Homo sapiens: one gene and its partner. The protein of the gene in region 1 interacts with the protein of each later gene in a pairwise test. Each region holds a gene or a part of one and is shown on either strand. Other genes may lie near its edges. The genes, in order: BRPF3 and NCK1.

Evidence for each region.
Region 2: the proteins of BRPF3 (region 1) and NCK1 interact in binary tests that used the Homo sapiens proteins (3 or more experiments, as listed by UniProt).

The regions. Positions count from the first base shown.
Region 1 is NC_000006.12:36,227,670-36,230,762, reverse strand, and holds part of BRPF3 (bromodomain and PHD finger-containing protein 3), read right to left. Parts: intron 1,862-3,093; coding exon 1,707-1,861; intron 905-1,706; coding exon of another isoform or gene 904-904; exon of another isoform or gene 338-903; coding exon 154-337; 3' UTR 1-153. UniProt on the Homo sapiens protein: Scaffold subunit of various histone acetyltransferase (HAT) complexes, such as the MOZ/MORF and HBO1 complexes, which have a histone H3 acetyltransferase activity.
Region 2 is NC_000003.12:136,942,091-136,945,910, reverse strand, and holds part of NCK1 (SH2/SH3 adapter protein NCK1), read right to left. Parts: intron 329-3,820; coding exon 1-328. UniProt on the Homo sapiens protein: Adapter protein which associates with tyrosine-phosphorylated growth factor receptors, such as KDR and PDGFRB, or their cellular substrates. Maintains low levels of EIF2S1 phosphorylation by promoting its dephosphorylation by PP1.

The DNA of each region.
Region 1 (3,093 bases):
CTGGGGCCTTGCCCTTAGTGGGGAGAAAGCCCAGTCCCTGGCCTACCATGAGAGGGGGAAGCTGCCGGCCATACATCTGGCAGGGGCAGAAGAGGCTTCTCTGTGCCCTGCGGGATGGAGGCAGGGCAAGCGGATGCAGGCCCAGCCCTGCCCTTACAGGTAGCTGGAAGTGACGAAGGAGTGGGGCCCCCGGACTCTGCTCAGGTGGATCATCGCACGGTCATAGGCCACCTGCACTGACTTGCGGATGCTGGTCTTGCGGCCTTCCAGCATCTTGAGCTTGTCCACGGTGTCTTCCACACCCAAGGGCAGGACTTTGTCCCTTGGAAGCCACTGCCTGAAATGCAAGCACAGTAAGAGGCTGGGCAGTAGTGGGTCTCACAGGGGGCTCGGGCTCCTGTGGCCCCACTTGGCCAGGACCAGCAAAGCCAGGGAGAGGGTACAGGGCAGAGGGAAGCAAATTGGGGGACTCCATGCAGGAGGCCACCAAGAACCTAGCAGGTGAGGACAGCAAGCAGGATATGCAGGAGTCGGGTGGGGGAATGGCATGGAATCAATTTTGCAGCTAGGTCCTTCTCTGGGCCCTTACTCTGTTTGGAGAGTTGTAAGGGTCCATAGGCTAAGAAAGGCCCACCTGCTGCCCTCTGGGGCCAGCTGAGCCACCCTGGAGGGCTCTGAGCCTCGCCTTGCGTTGGAGAATTAGGGGGCGATGGCTAGGAAGTAGAGCTGATGCCAGGAACTGATAAACTCATCTGTGGTGGGACCTGCACACTGTGTATGTGTTTTTAAAGCTCCCCGGGTGAATATAACATGTGGCTAAGGATACAGCCTTTGGAGCAAGATCTTGTTTTGTATCTTAGTTCTGGCTACAGGGTCTGGACTTTCTGAGCCTCAACTTCCTCATCTGCAAAATGGATTATGAGGGGATTAATGAAGACTTAAATGAGGATTAAAAGAGATCAGATATATAAAGCAATCTGCATAAGGACATGGAGTAAGCACTCAATGGCAGCTACTATTATCACTGTTTTTATTAGCTAGTTCTCCCTCCTCACTCTATAGAAGCTAAGGTGAAAGCACTCTCTTGTTGGTGCTAAGAGAAACCTTAAGTGTTGTAAACCATAAATGAGCAAGTCTCCTGTAGCGGACACTGCACTGGCCAGAACCCCCCTCAGGACGGAAACATGCTTCCCAGAAGCTACTGGAAGTGCTGGAAGCTCACAGGCTCTCATCTGAGTCCCTCTCTAGGAATCACTCTCCACCATGGAAGCCTCAGGCCCAGGCCACACCCCTCCCTCAGGGCAGTGGCATTGAATAACTAGTTGGCACAGGGCAAAAAGGCACAGGCCCAATTCCTGACATCTCTTATCTTGTTGAGCCACCCAGCTCCAGATGTGCCCAGTGGATGAGCTGAGGCAGCAAGTGGGCTGTAGTTCAACTTCTGCCCAGTGCTGCATCGCTCCCGCCCCACAGCTCTCCTCAATAGCCTCCTGATGCAAGTCTCGACCTCAGAGTGTTTCCCAGGGAATCTGATCTGCAACACCCCTCAGTTACTATTAACATGCCAAGTGCAGGCCTGTTGCTGGCAAGTGGAGACCAGGGTAACTGGTAACATCCATGGCCCCTCTGTACACCTCACTAGCACAGCACCACTGGCACAGACCCCTGGCGTGCCCCTCAGCCCCCTCACAGCAGCACCCACTAACCAGGTGCGCTTGTTGTCAAAGAAGAGGACAAGGAAGAGCTTCTCTCCAGCCTCTGCCTGTTTCTGCTCTCCCAGCTTCAGCACGTCCAGCGGGGGGACAGGGATGGGAACGCCATTGTGCAGGAGGCCCTCCCGGGGCATCTTGGGATCGATGATCTGGAGGCAGAATAGAAGATGGGCACTCAGTGAGGGAGGCCAGGGTGAGCAGTGCCCCTGCTGCAGGACCAACTGCTGAAGCACCCACACCAGGGGAGTATCAGGCCTGAGTGGGATATCTTTGATGTCCAGACCAGACAGGCAAACCCCTTCCTCCAATGTCCCTTAGGACAGAAGAGTAGAGGTCACTTTTTTTTTCCTGTCAATTTCCCCTTAGTACCTTTGCAATTCACCTCAAATGTTTGGGGGCCTTCCCTAGGTACCACGGCTATGAAGAAGGCTTTGCATCGGGAAGGCCATCCAGTTGGTTCTAACGAGGTCTCTGGTTACCCACTACCTTCCTGTCTGACTACAATCCTTCCTGATACATGGACCAGATATATTTGTGACACCTCCATGGTAAGATCAGAGAGGAGGCTCAGTGTATAGCTAGAGAATGAGCTTGGAGGTTGATGGAGAGGGGGGTATGATGTGGGTGGAAACAAGGGCCACTGGAGGCATTAATCCTTGAGGCAATAAGCTCCACAAGGGCAGCAGCTGGGCCCTTCTCCTTCAGGTTTGCTTCTGGCATCCAGCCCCACCTTGCCTGGCTCAGAGACGGCAGGTGCTCAGCAAAATGCCTGGCAGCATCAACACAACAATCAAAATCCAGGTCTAGGGAGCACTTTCAAAGTTTCCAAAGCTCCTAATTATTCACACATCATCTCATTTCAATCTCTTGCTGATGCTGAGAAGTCTGCTAACAGGTGTTAGCTGACAAGAGGAAAACACCAAGCACAGAAGCAGAATGTAGCTGGCTAAAACCACATTGGTACTAAAACCAAACAAGGCTTGGGCCTCCACAGCCCACTGCCTCCTACACAGCCCCTGCTTCCAGAGCAGACAGCTAATAGCTCTGGGAGCAAAGACTAGGAACTTACTGAGGAAGCAGCCTTCTCCAGAGACAGAGCAATCTTACTTCCTATACGCTGTCCCAGTGGGCCCCTTCTTACAATAAACTGCTCTCATTATTTACCTTTGCTTGTCTGCCAATTTCACTACATCCCTCTCAAGATAAGCAGCTGAAAGCAGCTGTTCTGGTTAGGAGTTTACTCTAAGGAAGAACCACCTTACCCCACCCACCAGGTGTGTAATTTGATCAAAACTCTCTCTCCCAGCCTGTCTGTCCCTCCTGGGATTGAAGTAAAGGGTCTTAAGGAGAACCACCATACAAGCCCTTGTAAGCTTCCTTG
Region 2 (3,820 bases), on another chromosome or scaffold:
TTATTGACGACTGCTGCTAATTTCTCTGACAGAGAACCCACATGGTCACCCAAAGGACTGTCACCTTCTTCAGTTACATAGTTTGAAGGGAACCATCCAACTTGTCCATTGTAGCTACCACGCCACCACCCATCACTGCATTTCTCCATGACGATCACCTTTGTCCCCTTTATCAATGATAATTCATCCTCTCTCTCAGCCATGTAGTTAAATTTCACATAAGCGGGCATGTTGAGGTCATAGAGACGTTCCCCTGGGTCAACAAAACTATCATCAGCAGGAGATGCAGAATCTGGCACACTAGGTTTTCTTTTCACTTTTCCAATGCCTGTTGAAATTAAAAAGGGCCATGAGAGGAGAATATAAAAAAATGATTACCAAAAGAATGAACTTATTCATTATTAAAAAGAGATCTTCAACTCTATATAGATCTTTAAAGCTTTTAAATATAACAAATTTCTATGTAGTTAAAAATCATCTTTTTGGAAATAAGATGCAAATTTTCTTTTTCTTAACCAAATAAATATTTAATTTGTTATTATATGACAGTTCACCATCTTTTCTCTTGTCAAAGGCCCTGAAATAACTATATAACATAATTATAAAGTTGTCCTAAATTAATGAATTCCCTCTTAAATGTAAATATAGATTTCTTTCATAGCTACAATCTAAGTACACAAAGGCTCCACCACACCCATACTCTTCTTGTCTTAGTTTAAGCAAGCTAGATTCTACAATGAGCTGTATAAAAATAAAATTATTTCTATCTTAAATCAGAATATGATATGCAATATAAAATTGCAGTTATGTCTGGCTAATCTTCCCATTTGCTTTCTTGGTTCCCAGACCCAGGTAGCTCTATTTACCTCATATGTTTATTTTAAAATATTATTTGTTTTTCTCCCCTTACCCCAGTCATATGTAACCTCCAAAAGGACAGGGAGTTTTGTTTGTTTACAGATAGAATCCCAAGGATCTTGTATAGTGCTTAGTACACAGTAAATGCTTAACACATATGTGTTGAAAGAAATGAGAAAATCACCAAATGGTACTATCAATACAAATGTACGCTACATCAACTTCAGTCAGGCATTTTCACTGCTGCCCATTTCTTAGCGTGTGATTTTATGCTCTACTTTACCTAGAAAACTGAGGCTTCCCTAGGTAAAACTTCTCAAATTCCTTTTGTCTCAAAACTCTCATTATCCTCACTCTCGTTCTTCACTCAAGTCTCCAAATCCTGATCCTTCTAGGATCTTAATACTATCTTTCCTGACTCTCTTGGGACTCTCGACATCCTTGTTTTCCTTCCTATTTAGTCCCTTCAATTGTCTAAAAACACACTCATATCTTTTCTACTCCAAAATGAAGTTACTTTAACTCTGCTACAACTTTTAAACCGTAACATTTTGGTAATTTATTTATTTTTTCTCTAACTGGTCCAATTTTCCTATAGAATAAACTATACCACTCTTTTAAAAGTTGTCTTTCCCGGCTGGGCACGGTGGCTCATGCCAGTAATCCCAGCATTCTGGGAGGCTGAGGCGGGCAGATCACAAGCTCAAGAGATCGAGACCATCCTGGCCAAACATGGTGAAACCCCGTCTCTACTAAAAATACAAAAATTAGCTGGGTGCAGTGGTGTGCACCTGTAGTCCCAGCTACTCAGGAGGCTGAGGCAGGAGAATCGTTTGAACCTGGCAGGCGGAGGTTGCAGTGAGCCAAGATCACGTCACTATACTCCAGCCTGGCGACAGGGCAAGACTCTGTCTCAAAAAAAAAAAAAAAAAAAAAAAAAGGTTGTTTTTCCTTTTCCCTCGACTTTTTCACCACTCACACTCCCAACTCTTTATTATCTGATCCTTTGTCTCCAACATTCTAACAAAACTACTCAATTAAAACCATTCTTATGAATACCATTCTTATGTCATCTCTCCTTACTGTCAAATCAGTAACTTTTAAAGTCCTCAGCCTTCTCAAACTCTATATGCAGCAACCAAGATCACAGCCCACTCTCTCCATTATGTTTTCTTCTTCTTTGACTTCCCCGAATTTCTTATTTTCCCTCCCAACCTGTTTACATATTCTTGTTTACCTCTGTCTAGGCTCCTCTAACCTTGTTATTATAACACTGCATTGTACTTGTTTACTTGTCTGTCTTCCTCAATATGAGTGAACTTCCTGAGGGCAGAAAACGAGATCTTATTCGTTTCTGTCTCCAACGCTTAGCAGTACATACATCAGTAGTAGGAACAAAGGAAAAACAAAATTATGTATTCAGCAGTCAGCAAACATGCTGAATGAATAAATGAAGAATTCCTTAGCTGAAAGTGTTTCACAAGATGACATACTTGACCTTCCTCTCTATTCCAAGGAAATCATACACTTTCATTTTCTATAATTTCTGTGCAGAAGGTTCCCAGATCTCTTTGCAGCTCTAAGACCTTTCTGGAATTCAGGCATTACAATTCCAACTGTCACTAGACACCCACAGATTGTGCCATCAGTACCTCAAACCCAACACTCATGTCCAAATAAAAATAATCCAGTCTATACCCCTAAATCAACTTCTTCCTTCCTAATTTTCTTACTTCCGGTTAATGATAGCCTTCAGAGAAATCCCTACATTTGGGGTGATACCACCAAAAATAGTAGAGTAAGGAACTCCAAGGCACTGTCCCTGCAAAAAGCAATGAATGCAATTAATGAGCTGGTAAATACTGTCAGACTCAACTTTTGCAGAACTCTGGAATCTAGTAAAAAAAAAAAACTTATAAAATCTAGGGCAAGGCTTGGTAAAGAAAGAAGTTGCTGCTTTGTGGTAAAGAGAGTGCTATCGCATCCTAAGTTGCCTGCCCACCATCCCCCACACCCCAAGTCAGTGATGGCTGTGTGGACAGTAACCTGCACTCCTAATGCCAGAGGAAGCAATACAGATCTCATTCTTAAACAATTGTGATTGTGGGTTTCAACTTGTCTGGCAGCTCCCTGAAGGACCTGAGCAATGGCTTGCCTTGGCTTTGCCTGACTTGAATCATTCCCAGGCATAGGGAGTCTTCCTGGGTGGTTTTTGCAAAAATCATTTAATGGATGCAGCAGCCTGGGGCAAGGGACAACAACTGGGACAAGGAACAGACAGATGGAAAAGCCTGGACAGAAAGGGGATGGGAAAGAATATACATGGGGTAATAAGGGGTGTGTATACCAATCAAGAAGGACGTGCACATGGCCAGGGCTGGATGCACATTCAGGAAAGGCCCAAGAAGACCCTAAGCTTTCACCCTGGCTGATCTTCAGGCTTTGAGCAAACAGTAAGCAAAGGCTAAGGCAGAATTATAAATGGCATCACTAAGTGGTCAAAAACTGCCCCAACATAAAGCCATCTGTAAAGATGGGGAGAGGTTTTCTTTTGTTTGTTTGTTTTTTCTTTTGGCTCCAGGTGTTTAACGAAACTCTGTTAAAACCCTAGCTGATTACTAAGCAAATGGAATAGACTTCAGCGGCCCCACATGACCAGGAATATAGAGCTTATAAAAGTAGTTTAGTAAAGTCACTAAACAAGCAAACAACAACCACTCACAATAAGCAGCAGTAATAAGCCCTGGGGAGGGGATAGAATCTGATCTGATGCTGAAAGCAAAAGAGCCAACAAAGAATTCTATATTTAGCAAAACTGTCCTTCAAAAATGAAGGAGAACATAAGACATTCCCAGATAAACAAAAACTAAAGGAATTCATCACTACCAGACCTGTGCTAAGAAATGCTAAAGAGAGGCTGGGCACAGGGGCTCACACCTGTAATCCCAGCACTTTGGGAGAC